Linked DNA regions of Homo sapiens. The protein of the gene in region 2 interacts with the protein of the main gene of each other region in a pairwise test. Each region holds a gene or a part of one and is shown on either strand. Other genes may lie near its edges.

The links. The genes of interacting proteins can lie anywhere in the genome.
Region 1: the proteins of SLC19A3 (region 2) and GET1 interact in binary tests that used the Homo sapiens proteins (3 or more experiments, as listed by UniProt).

The regions. Positions count from the first base shown.
Region 1 is NC_000021.9:39,383,309-39,390,334, forward strand, and holds part of GET1 (guided entry of tail-anchored proteins factor 1), read left to right. Parts: intron 1-4,472; exon of another isoform or gene 4,473-4,547; intron 4,548-7,026. UniProt on the Homo sapiens protein: Required for the post-translational delivery of tail-anchored (TA) proteins to the endoplasmic reticulum (ER).
Region 2 is NC_000002.12:227,694,011-227,701,036, forward strand, and holds part of SLC19A3 (thiamine transporter 2), read right to left. Parts: coding exon of another isoform or gene 6,903-7,026; intron 5,555-6,902; coding exon 4,726-5,554; intron 2,072-4,725; coding exon 1,879-2,071; intron 1-1,878. UniProt on the Homo sapiens protein: Mediates high affinity thiamine uptake, probably via a proton anti-port mechanism. Has no folate transport activity. Mediates H(+)-dependent pyridoxine transport.

The sequences.
Region 1 (7,026 bases), on a different chromosome or scaffold from region 2:
CTTGCTCTTGTTGCCCAGGCTGGAGTGCAATGGCGCAATCTCAGCTCACTGCAACCTCTGCCCCCCGAGTTCAAGAGATTCTCCTGCCTCAGCTTCCCAAGTAGCTGGGATTACAGGTGCCCGCCACTATGCCCGGCTAATTTTTGTATTTTTAGTAGAGACGAGGTTTCACCATGTTGGCCAGGCTGGTCTCGAACTCCTGATCTCCGGTGATCTGCCCACCTTGGCCTCCCAAAGTGCTGGGATTACAGGTGTGAGCCACTGCACCCAGCTAATTTTTATTTTTTTGAGAGGGAGTCTCTCTCTGTCACCCAGGCTGGAGTGCAGTGGCTCAATCTTGGCTCACTGCAACCTCCGCCTCCCAGGTTCAAGCAATTCTTCTGTCTCAGCCTTCCAGGTAGCTGGGATTACAGGTTTGAGCCACTGCGCCCAGCTAATTTTTATTTTTTTGAGAGGGAGTCTCTCTCTGTCACCCAGGCTGGAGTGCAGTGGCTCAATCTTGGCTCACTGCAACCTCCGCCTCCCAGGTTCAAGCAATTCTTCTGTCTCAGCCTTCCAGGTAGCTGGGATTACAGGTGCATGCCACCATGCTGGGCTAATTTTTGTATTTTTAGTAGAGACGGGGTTTTGCCATGTTGGCGAGGCTGGTCTCGAACTCCTGACCTCAGGTGATCCACCTGCCTGGGCCTCCCAAAGTACTGGGATTACAGGCGTGAGCCACCACCCCCGGCCTTTTTTTTTTTTTGTAATACTAACCATTCTAATGGACGTAAGGTGGTGTCTCATTTTAGTTTTGATTTGCATTTCCCTAATAGTGATGTTGAGTATCTTTTCAGATGCTTATGGCCATCTGTTTATCTTTGGAGACATGTCTAGTCAAATCTTTTGCCCCCTTTTAAAATCCAGTTGTTTTTTGTTGTTGAGTTCCTTTTGTTGTTGTTATTATTATTATTATTATTATTTTTTGAGACAGAGTTTTGCTCTTTTGCCGAGGCTGGAGTGCAGTGGCGCTATCTCGGCTCACTGCAACCTCTGCCTCCTGGGTTCAAGCGATTCTCCTGCCTTAGCCTCCCGAGTAGCTGGGATTACATGCATGCACCACCACACCTAGCTAATTTTTGTATTTTTTTTAGTAGAAAGAGGGTTTCACCATGTTGGCCTGGCTGGTCTCGAACTCCTGACCTAAGGTGATCCACCTGCCTCAGCCTCCCAAAGTGCGGAGATTACAGCTGTGAGCCACCACACCTGGCCGACAATTTTTTTTTTTTTTTTTAACTTTTAAGTTCAGGGATACATGTGCGGGTTTGTTATATAGGTAAACTTGTGTCATGGGTGTTTGTTGTACAGATTATTTCGTCACCCAGTTATTAAGTCTAGTATTCATTAGTTATTTTTCCTGATTGTCTCCCTCCCACCCCCTATCCTCCACCCTCCAAAATAGAAAAATTTGTTTTTAGAGGCCGGGTCTTGCTCTGTGACTCAGGACCTGTGGCCACATCCTGTGCTGCCTCATACAACCTTATGGCCTCTCTAACCTCAACCCAGTTAGCTTTCCTAAACCCATTTCCCTATGATTGTTAACACTTGTTGTTAGCCAGGTTCAGAAGGATAACATAATTATTATCCCAGCAGAGTACACCCACCCTGTAATCGGTAAGAGAGATGTTTGGCCTGGTCACTGGGTTTGTGGTGAGAGTCTGTGAAAAGCTGTAAGGAACGCGCTGGTCTTCAGTAGGGTCAAATGCTGCTCCTTCACCATCGTCAGAGGCTACTTCATCACAGCCTCTCTGATTTGAGGATTCAAGTGGGAAAGACTCATGACAAGCAGCAGAAAGTCGAATTGGGAAAACAGTGCCCTCAGGGATGGGGCCGCGCTCAGGTACTTAGATTATAACCTCCGTTGGGATGTTTCTGAAGCTTTCGTCTTAGCAGAAGTTAGGGAGGCAGCACCCCGATCTCAGCACTCAGTCTAGGCCGCACTGGTCCCCGCACTGGTCTCCCCCCTCCCCCCGCGTGAGGCCTTAGGAGGTCTGAAGTATCAGAAGTCCTTGGGCCAGTTAAGCCTAGCAAGGTCCTGGGAGGCGATCTCAGCTGTCCGCTGCGGTGGGGGTGGGATGCCTGGTAAGGACACCAAGTCCGTGGTGTTGGCGTGGTTGGAATTTTCCTGGGATCGCTCCCTTCTCTTCAAGCTGGTCACGGGGACGCATGGTTGAGAGCGCCTAGTTCATTCAGTAGGTGGTCCAGGACTTTCTTCAGCTATAGAGGGGAACAAAGACGCCTTTGGTGAGCACCGGCTCTGCAGCTCTGCGGGTGCAGGGGAGGTGTACTGCGTAGGTGCCCCAGGACTGGCGGGGGCTGAGGGTCCATGCGAACGGCACTACTACGCAGGCGTCGCAGGACTGGCCCGGGCTCAAGGTCCGTGCAAACTGCATGCACTGCGCAGGTGCTCCAGGACTCGCGCGGGGTCAAAGTCCATGCAAGCCGCACGCACTGCACAGGTGCCCCAGGACTGGCACGGGCTCAGAGTCCACGCATACCGCACACACTGCGCAGGCGCTCCAGGACTGGCGCGGGCTCAGAGTCTATGCAAACCGCATACACTGTGCAGGCGCCCTAGGACTGGCGCTGGCTCAGGGTCCCTGCGAGCTGCACGCACTGCGCAGGCGCCCCAGAGCTGGTGTGGGCTGAGTGGCCACACGAGCCACATGCACTGCGCAGGCGCCAGGAGGCCCTTCCTCTCAATCCGAGCTTTGCAGATGAAGGACTCTGCGTGTGTTGCCTTCTGGGCTTACGGGCCGAGTGCCCTTTGAGATTCAACTTTTTCTAAATTATCCTTCACTTTCTGCTGTAAAGAGTGGCCACCTCCTTTTTCCTCTAGGGGACTGAAGCGAGAGGAGGATATTGCAGGGTTTGCCTCTGTGGTCATCTTCTTAGAGAGCACCCCCTCCGCCCCCACACCCTTTTCCTCAGAGCCGTTGCTTAGTGAGTCCCTGCCATGGACCAGGCTTGGGAATGGTCCCCAAGTATTAGTTTAGGAGGACGACTCTCTGCTTCACAGGACCTACCCCAGAATCCTGTGACTCAGAAGCGCGCTTGTGAAGTGCGCATGTGCGGGCAGGGCCTCCAGTGGGGCTCTCGTGGGGGCAGCAGCCAAGGACTGGGGCTGGTGGCCTGGAGAGCTGCCCGCTTCTCCGCCCTTGCCGGTAGGGTTCCTGGCCGAGAGTGGCATCTGGGGCTGTTCAGGGTCTGGAGCTTCCTGAGTTGGAAGACCCTGTCCTCTGTGTTCAGGGACTCAGGGTGACCTGAGTTGGTGGTTCCTGGGTTTGCCTGCTCTACTGCTGGCAGGGACTAGCACGGGGTGTGCACGTTGTCATGCCATCAATTAATTCAGAGATTCACTTTTGTTCTAAAAATTAATATTTGCATTATTACATTTAGATTCATATTAAATCTTACACTGCATGATTCTAGAACATTTTAACACTTATACGTGGGTCTTGGATTAACATTGATACATATTTGCAAATTTATACTTTAAAACTTTTTTTTTTTTAGAGACAGGGTCTCACTCTGTTGCCAAGGCTGTAGTGTGGTGGTGCCATCATAACTCACAGCAGCCTCAACCTTTCGGGCTCAAGTGATCCCTCCCTCCCCGCCTCAGCCTCCTGAGTAGCTGGGGCCACACGGACCACAGGCGTGCACCACCACACCTGACTAATTTTTAATTTTTTGGTAGAGATTGGGTCTTGCTATGTTGCCCCGCCTGGTCTCGAACTCCTGGGCTCAAACGATCTTCCCGCGTCAGTCTCCGAAAGTGCTGGGATTACTGCACTGCGCCTGGCTCAGACAGTTTTTATTGTGCTTATACATGTAATAGATGTAATTATTTTTTCAAGCACCAGTTGTTTTTGTTAACCTTACAAAGCTGCCTTCAGTTTTCCTGAAGTTCACCCTTCTGCCTTCACTCACCTCCCATTCCTGAGTTGTTTTGTGTATTCCCTATAATGCTAAATAATGTCTTGGAATCTCTTTTTCTTTTTAAAATATGGTTTTAAAAGTCAGATTTATTGAAGTGTAATTTGTATAAGGCGAAATTATCAAAAAGTCCTTAGCAGTGTCTGTAGATTTTCCTTGCTTTTGAAAGATAATTTTGTGATTCATCTAAGAGAATTTGGCCCATTCCTATTTCCTTCTCCAGAGTGGATCAGGCTGGAGTATAGCTCCTTCGGTTATAGTGCTGGGTAGTGGCCAGGGCAGAGGCACCACAAAGAGAGCTGGATTTGAACCCCCTACTCCCTGCGCAAAGGCTGCCAGAAGCTGCGCTGCAGTGAACACGCTGCGCATGAGCCCCTAGACCCCTCCACCCCCCCTACTCCCCACACTCCCCCCCCCCACTTTTGCCTCATCACGCAGGCGCTGGTAGGCGGCATCACTGGGCGGGTCAGAAACCACGCGCATGCGCAGACACCCTCAGGCGACTGGCGGGTCGCGGCTTCCAAGCTCTAAATGGAGAGTTGTCCCTACTGTGCGGCAGGCGGAGGAGACCTGTAAGCTGGAAGGGGGAGGGGGGGGGATCTGATTTATTGTGTGCCAGGCACACTTTAGATACACTATAACATTTCGTCTTTATTAATCTATTTTTAAAATTTCGAAACAAACACAAATGTGCAGAAAAGTTATATACAGTCAATACCGATAACTGATTTTGTTTCCTGAACCATTTGGAAGTTGTCAACCCAAACCCCCTCATTCCGAGATACTTTGGTATTCAAAAGAATCTTGGGGGCCGGGCACAGTGGCTCACGCCTTTAATCCCAGCACTTTGGGAGGCCGAGGCTGGCGGATCGCTTGAGCTCAGGAGTTCACTGGCAACATAGTGAAACCGTGTGTCTACTAAAACTAAAAAAAAATTAGTCGAGTGTGGTGGTGCAGGCCTGTAGTCCCAGATGCTCAGGAGGCTCAGGTGGGAGTATCGCTTGAGCCCAGGAAGTCGAGGTTGCAGTGAGCCGAGATCTAATGCAGGCGTCAAGTACGTTACCACGATCTGATCCTCAGACCCCATGCAGGTTCCCCACGTTTCGCAGTAATGTCCTTAACAGGGAAAGGACCCAGTTCGGAATCATGCATTGCATTTCCCGGCCTCTAGCCTCCTGTCTGGAGGAGTTTCCCAGTCTTCCCTTGACTTTCATGGCTGTCATTTGTGGGTGTCAGAGGCCAGTGATTTCGCAGAAGGGACGCCTACTGGCATGTCTGATACTTGGTAGGGATTTCTGAGAGGCAGTGCTGTGTTCTCATTGTGTCTCATCCGCTGGTGTGGGACTGGGATTTGGGGATGTTCGCTGATCCCTTGGGGTAGGTGCCAGAGGCGCCACTGAGGGATCTGGTCTTGGGGCGCCCGCGCAGTCCTTGGACTAGGCCTTCCCGGCAGATCTGCGGGCGCCACCTGGCGGTCACTGCCGACTCCTCCGTTGCGCTCCAGTCACCTCTCCCATCCCGGTGCCGTGGCCGGGCCGTTCCCTGGAGAGTGGACGGCTGGGGCTGGTGCAGGGAACAGGGGCCTGCGGGGGCTGCGCAGGCGGGCCTCCAGGTCATGCGGGGCCCCTCTGCTCACAGGGACCAGCCAGGCCAGCCTGGGGAGCGTGCTTCTTTGTTTATGTCTGTATTTCTCTGCCTATCTGTGGAAACCACAGATCTCCAATTGAAGCCAACACCACAAGATTCATTCTGCTTCTCTCCGAGACGCCTGCCTGCCTGCCTTCCTTCCTTCCTTCCTCCCTCCCTTCCTCCCTTCTTCCCTTCCTTCCTTCACCAGGTTATGAAAGTGGCTAATTTTTCATATTTTTTGTAGAGACAGGGTTTCACCATGTTGCCAAGGCTGGTCTTGAACTCCTGGGCTCAAGCGATTCACCTGCCTTGGCCTCCCAAAGTGCTGGGATTATTGGCATGAGACACCGAACCTGGCCTTTTTTCTTTTGTCCCCCTTTTTTTTTTGAGACAAGGTCTCACCCTGTCGCCCAGGCTGGAGTCCCATGGCATGATCTCAGCTCACTGTAGCCTTGAACTCCTGTATACAAGAGATCCTCCCACCCCGGCCTCCAGAGTGTTAGGGTTGCAGGCCGAGCCACCATGCCAGGCTGAGGCATCTTTCTAAGTGTCTTTGTTGAAAGTGAGAAGACTGGCTTCCGTTACTCTCAATATGTTTATTTCTGTGATCACCCTTTTGTAATTAATCTCTGGTGTCCACCGCCCACTGTTACCCAAGTGAATGCATGCCTCTCCCCACCTGGGCTCCGACCCTGGCAGGGTTCCTTCTTGTCTTGTATGTCTGTCTCCCTCACCCTACAGACCCTGACTCCTGTGTCAGGCTGCCCTTTCTTGGGGACCCCTGTATCACCATGCCTGGCCCTGATGCCTCTTGCCAGGGTGCCATTCTGTGGGAAGGCCCTCTGCACTGAGCTTGGGCACTGACATTCTGCCCTGGGCCCCTGCCTCACCACTGTTACCCTGCACCTGCACCTTGCTCTGCCCCGTCTAATCTAGGACTGAATTCTTCTGGGAGGGGAGAGGTTACATGTTCCCTGTCACTGGAATAACAGCTCTGGTGATGGAATTGGTTTTCATTTCACAATTGCAATTTTATTTATAGTGAAACAGACAAACATTTGTATTGGAGCAAATTCATGGGCATATCTGTAAAAGGAAAAATATAGTTTGAATAGCAATTTGAATATGAGTTTTTTTTTTTTTTTTTTTTGTGGTCGTTATAGGGAGCCGAAAAAGGCAGCAGAGGCTGGCTGTGTAGGTAGAGGGCAGCTTGCCCAGTTGGCAGAGGTGGGAGTAGGATGTTGGAGGAAGGTGTACCGGTTCTGTCTGGCCAAACCCATGCTGGAGTCACCTCAAAAGCAGTGGCAGGGGAGTTCCCTCAAGGGGCTGCTCCAGACTGCCTGGAGATGGGGCTGGCTTGGATTCCAAAGAAAGAAGCACTAAACGCCAGGGTGATAAGTCCACAGCATTCATGACGGGAAC
Region 2 (7,026 bases):
AATGAGATATTATCTCACTTCAATTTGAATGGCTTTTATCCAAAAAACAAGCAATAAATGCTGATGAGAATGTGCAACCTCTGCCTCCCAGGTTCAAGGGATTCTCCTGCCTCAGCCTCCCCAGTAGCAGGGATTACAGGTTCTCACCACCATGCCCAGCTAATTTTTGTATTTTTAGTAGATACGGGGTTTAATCATATTGGCCAGGCTGGTCTCGAACTCCTGACCTCAGGTGATCCACCTGCTTTGGCCTCCCAAAGTGCTGGGATTACAGGCGGGAGCCACTGTGCCCAGCCGTGAATATTTTTTTTTAATGCAAAGAAATGATATAATCCTACTTTAACAAAATCTTCACATTTAAAAAAAAGCAACCTAAGATACATGATTCTGATTAAATTAAGACATTTCCATGAAGAAAATAAACATACCAACTAATTGTTTTTTCCTTTGATGATTTTTTCCCAGAGTGCTCATATTTCTGTGTTGTAAATTGTTTATAAAACATTCTTCACAAATTGAAAGCAAAACTTGATGAAGCTTTTGTCTCCACTTCTTTCATGCAATTTGAAATTCAAATGTTTCTCATTTTTTTTGGTTAATAGCAAAGCATATTTTCTGTAGTCAGCTTTAGCTGTACTTTTATATGAAACCGAATGGTTTTTTAATCATTTTCTTAAAGAGATCTCTGAGAAAAAAGTAGAAGCAAAAATGACGGGAAATTCTAAATCCCAGAAATTATTTTTAGAAAATGACTGAAAACTAGATCTGGCGTGGTGGCTCACACCTGTAATCCTACCACTTTGGGAAGCTGAGGCCAGAGGATTACTTGAGCCCAGGAGTTTGAGACCAGCCTGGGGAACACAGTGACACTCTGTCTCTACAAAAATGAAAATTAAAAATTTAGCCAGGCATGGTGGTGTGCACCAGTAGTTTCAGCTACTCAGGAGGCTGAGGTGGGAGGACTGCTTGAGCCCAGGAGATCAAGATTGTGGTGTGCTATGATTGCACCACTGCACTCCTGCCTGGGTGAGACCCTGTCTCAAAAAGAACAAAAGAAAAGAAAAACTGCTTGGTTCCATACACGACTGCAGCTAAAGGTTTCTTGTTATCTTTGCATCTACTTTTTTTAGTATCCAACTTTTTAATAACTTTCCTGAGAATCTTTTGTGTCATAAAAGTATGTGCTTAGAATTTCTCAAGCAAACAAATGAAAGTAGGAATGAAATCTAAACCTAACCATTTGAAAGCAGATCACATCACACTTTATGTAGAAAGTTGCTGGAAATAAACAAATCAAATCCTGACAATGATGCCAGATGTAGTGGCTCACACCTGTAATTCCAGCACTTTGGGAAGCCAGGGCAGGTGGATCGCTTGAGCCCAGGAGTTTGGGACCAGCCTGAGCAACATGGTGAAACCCCATCTCTACAAAATACGAAAAATTAGCTAGGCATGGTGGCACATGCTTGTCATCCCAGCTACTCAGGAGGTTGAGGTTGGGGACTCACCTGAGCCTGGGAAGTCAAGGCTGCATTGAGTCCTGATCGTGATCGCACCACTGCTCTCCAGCCTGGGCAAGAGAGCCAGGCCATCTCTCAAACAAAATAAAACAAAAAGAAAAACCTGACAATGTATCACTGCTTTTGGTCTATAAACCTACAGAGTTTTTTCCCTTGATGACTTAAGGTATATTGTAGCAATATTCAGAGAGCAAATAGTTAAATGAAAAGTTGGCTTAGTTGTGTCTAATTTAATATAAAGCAGTCAACATTTAATATTGCAATTGACTAAAATCCTTCTGAAGTTCTTAGAGAAAGTTTAGAAAGACAGAAGAGAGAGGAATACAGTTCAGTTTTAGGAGTGGTTGGTAAAACTTACACTGCTATGGTTATAAGAAGCATATAGCTGGACTTGAATATCAAATAGCCAGCATAGCACGCCCAGATATTGGCTGTGTAATGCATGAGAAATAAAGAACCGGCATTGACAACTGAGAAGACCACCAGAGCCAGCTCTCCCAGAAGGTCCCAGTTGACTTTCACATAACCCACTGCAAAGGCAGCCACAGCCCCTGAAAAAAAACATTGAAGGCAATCAAACATAATGACTTTGCATGCAGGAAAATATCAACACCCTCTCTTAAAAACCCAGGTCTCGGGTAATTCTGAAAGATAAATATATTGCTTTCACAAAATTGTGTGATCGACCTGAATGTGGATCTATCCTTTTCTCAAGCGTGTCTTCTTTTGGCTTTTCTTTTCACTTGCTATTCTTTCGGTCACTTAGTCACCATACTTTTAATTAGCATCAACTACACGCCAGACACTGTATTCTGCAGAGGGGCCAGAAAGGTTCCTAACCACAGCAGTGTAAGGAGAAATGATACATTAACCTAGTCACTCAGTACAACATGCAGGGATGGAAAAGGATGAAATAAATTCTCTGGGAATACACTGGCCTCTCTATTTGCCTTTCTTTTCTCAGTTTTTGCTGTAAGTCTTTTTCAGTGATGAGTATCAGATGTGTTACATTGAAAGTTTTAGTCTTTTTTCTTGCCCTACCCAGTTTTAGTCTTTATTATGAACCTTTAGTAATCTTAGTCTTATTTCCAATCTCCACTCTAAAGTCTTCAACATCTGACATAATTTACTTGAGAAGCTTTGGGTGAAAATATCTATATAGACTTACAGAGTTCAAGAAATTGAAATAATTGACAGTAATTAGGGTTAGCACTTTTGTGTGGTTCTCTTTAACAAAGGTAAAAGGTATTTAGGGCTGGGGACAGTGGCGCACTCCTGTAATCCCAGCACTTTGGGAGGCTGAAGGGGGTGGATCACTTGAGGTCAGGAGTTAGAGACCAGCCTGGCCAACATGGTGAAACTCCAGCTCTACTAAAAATACAAAAATTAGCCAGCATGGTGGCGGGCACCTGCAATCCCAGCTACTCAGGAGGCTGAGGCAGGAGAATCACTTGAACCCTGGAGGCAGAGTTTGCAATGAGCTGAAATCATGCCACTGCAATCCAGCCTGGGTGACAGAGTAAGACTCTGTCTAAAATAAATAAATAAACAAAAGGTATTTAGATTTCAAATTACTACATTGACATATGACTAACTTTCCCACATGTGATCATGACCACAGAGGAAAAAAAAAATAACTATTTTTCCCCCCATGGATTTGGAATGTAGGAGCAATAATTTCAGTGAAGCAATTCTGGCACAGTCCTGGTTTCCAGGAGTTAAACTGAAGCTTCCCAAAAGGGAGATAATAATAAAATAGAGGTCACACGGGTTTTCTAAAACTTTTTGTAAATGAGGGTGGGGCGAATTCTCACTTCCTAAAAAATATCTTCAAAGTCTCATTTGACATTTAAGCTTCCAGTTACTAGGAAATAAACATTTATTGTAGATTAAACTTCAAAGACAGATTTCCCTCTGATATTAAAATCCTGACTTTCACATCTCTTCCAGCCCTCATTTAAATACCATGAGAAAGCTGCTTTTGAAAGTTGTTGGTGTATAGCCTAGAATTGTTATAGGTGCATGCTAGCTAGTTCAAATCCTGTATTAACAAAACCCTCAGTGAGAATTTGGAATCCTTAATTTATTTTCTAAAATAATGAAAACATATACACATATATGTATATATTTTGATATTAAAAATAATCCTAAAAGAACAGGGCATGTTATTAACCTTTGTGCTAATGATGAATTGGAATCTTAGGGATTCAACTAGAATTTCATTGTTTGGTGCTAATCCCTGAGCTCCTAAGAGTTACTTCTTGTGGCTGGGCGTGGTGGCTCACGCCTGTAATCCCAGCACTTTTGGAGGCTGAGGCGGGTAGATCATGAGGTCAAGAGATTGAGACCATCCTGGGCAACATGGTGAAACCCCGTCTCTACTAAAAATACAAAAAAATTTAGCTGGGCATGGTGGCACGTGCCTGTAGTCCCAGCTACTCAGGAGGCTGAGGCAGGAGAATAGCTTGAACCTGGGAGGCAGAGGTTGCAGTGAGCTGAGATCGCACCACTGCATTCCAGCTTGGTGACAGAGTGAGGCTCTGTCTCAAAAAATAAAAAAGTTACTTGTAACTACAACACAATAGAAAGTCACAGTATTCTTATTTTTCCAGTGACTTTCATTCTTTTTATTTTTATTTTTATTTTTTTGAGAGGAGTCTCGCTCTGTCATCCAGGCTGGAGTGCAGTGGCACGATCTAGGCTCACTGCAAGCTCAGCCTCCCAGGTTCATGCCATTCTCCTGCCTCAGCCTCCCAAGTAGCTGGGACTACAGGCATCCGCCACCATGACCGGCTAATTTCTTTGTATTTTTAGTAGAGATGGGGTTTCACCGTGTTAGCCAGGATGGTCTCCATCTCCTGTCCTCGTGATTCGCCAGCCTCGGCCTCCCAAAGTGCTGGGACTACAGGTGCCCGCCACCACGCCTACCTATTTTATTTTTTGTATTTTTAGTAGAGACGGGGTTTCACTGCATTAGCCAGGATGGTCTCGACCTCCTGAAATCGTGATCCACGCGTCTCAGCTTCCCAAAGTGCTGGGATTACAGGCATAAGCCACCATGCCCGGCCGTGACTTTCATTCTTGACTGAAAAAAGTTATGCTTCCTTCTGAACAGAGCTAATTCGCTGCCATGAAGTTCGGTACCTGGAGGAATGGACTTAAGCGGGTAAAGCCAACAAAGGAAGATTAAGTGACATTTGCTTACCTCCAAAGGTTGCAATAGCTTCTACGGCCCCATTATAGATGGAAGAATCTTGGGATGGCGCCTTGTAATCCCACAGGATTTGAACATAGTTCAAAACCTGGTTAAAACCTGCTGTGGCGAAAGCCCACCATAGAGACCAGTAGAAAAGACGTTTTGAGGAGTAGCACTCCTTCAAATCTTGGAACCACTGCACAAAAACGTCCACAGTCACATTGCTTGGTTTCAGGCTGTTCAGCTGGCCCTTATTCAGCTTCCCTGAAGTGCTGAGTATTTCTGATGTGGGTTTCTGCTCTTCACAGCCTGGTGCTTCACCTTCGTGAGTTTCCTCTAATACTGGATTCACGCTTGATGACTTCTTTATTTCTCTGCTGGGTTTTGCATGAAAAAACATGCTTTTCTTGGGCATTGGTAGGAAAAGTGAGAAAAGGAAAGCCACGGAGACAGAGGCCAAGGATATGACGTTGAGGTAAAAGTACGACATGTTCGCCAGGGATACCAAGAGTTGAGCCAGCACCGACCCTGCTGTGTAGGCGGCCAGCGTGACGCTCCTGCAGTAGCCGCTCACTCTCTGGTAGTGCTCGGGGCTGACCACGCTGTATATGTAGGCGTAGTAGGCCACCTCGGCGGCGGTGACCATCCCATAGAAGAACTCTACAACCTGCATGGTCTTCACTCCTTGGCCAAACAACAGCAGCAGCCAGGTAATGATGAAACTGATACCTTGCAAGATGATGACTGGCTTGTAGCGGACATAATCGGTGAGGACAAACACAGGCAGCAGCAGCACCAGGTAGGAGTATGTCCAAACGGGGAAGATCTCATTTGTTATCTGCAAAGTTGGTAAATTGCATGACCACGAAGCACCGGTACTTTACTAAGGTACCTGTGGTTTGTATCTCAAATTCTGCCTCCAATTGGAAATTATTCGCATTACGGAGAAACATAATGAGAAAACTGATTTTCAAGGAAATCACAAGAAAAGATAGTCTCCTTTCCCATTGGTAAAAACCAATGTACACACTTAGATAAACCCCGGCAGAAAAATATATTGGCTTATTGTGCAATCTGAATTATGTATTAAGTTTAGATAGTATGTACAGTTGAGTAGATGAGTTAAAAAGTTTTTGGACACTTCTAAGATTTTCCGATTCTTTTTTTTTGAGGTGGAGTCTTGCTCAGCTGCCCAGGCTGGAGTGCAGTGGCCCGATCTTCGCTGACTGCAACCACCATCTCCCAGGTTCAAGCCATTCTCCCATCTCAGCCTCCTGAGTAGCTGGGATTACAGGCACCCGCCATCATGCCTGGCTAATTTTTGTATTTTAGAAGAGACGGGGTTTCACCATGTTGATCAGGTTGATCTTGAACTCCTGAACTTAGGTGATCCGCCCACCTCGGCCTCCCAAAGTGCTGGGATTATAGGCGTGAGCCACCGTGCCCGGCCCAAGATTCTTAAAAAATATAATTTCCTTCTTGTTTGAATATTAACATTAGACAAGTAGACCACAATGTTAAAAGAATCCAGGCCAGGCATGGTGGCTCACACCTGTAATCCCAGCACCTTGGGAGGCCGAGGCAGGCAGATCACGAGGTCAGGAGTTCGAGACCAGCCTGGCCAACATGATGAAACCCCGTCTACAACTAAAAACACAAAAATTAGCCATGAATGGTGGCAGACACCTGTAATCCCAGCTACTTGGGAGGCTGAGGCAGGAGAATCGCTTGAACCCAGGAGGCAGAGGTTGCAGAGAGCCGAGACTGTGCCACTGTACTCCAGCCTGGGCAACAGAGCAAGACTCCATCTGAACAACAACAACAAAAAGAATCCAACAGCCTTTATTTTCATGTGATCTATCACTACATCAAATATTTCAGCCCTTCCAACATCTGGAAAGATATGGGAAAATAGGGAAAGAGTAAATAACTTTGCCACATTATAGAGTGGAAGCAAATAATGTATCTCATTTTCCTTCATGGGCAAATTTGCTAGGTTCCCAACCTTCCCCCTGCTCCCCCTAACAATTCTGCTGATTTGTTTATGGCTCAATTTAATATGGATCATCTCACAGATTTAGTCAGAAATGCATGGGATCTCAATTTTCACAGTTGGAAGGACTGGAGTTGCTGATCTGTAGGGATGGGTGAGTGCCGCAGCCTCTCAAATCACTGAACGTACCCACCTTGACACCTGGATCACTGAGGTTGCTGGAGAAAGCAGGAGGCCACAGAGCAAAGACCACACAACTGAGCTGCTCCTTGGAGGGAAGGTCTGTTAACTGGTCCACAGTGGCTCGAGAAGCAGAA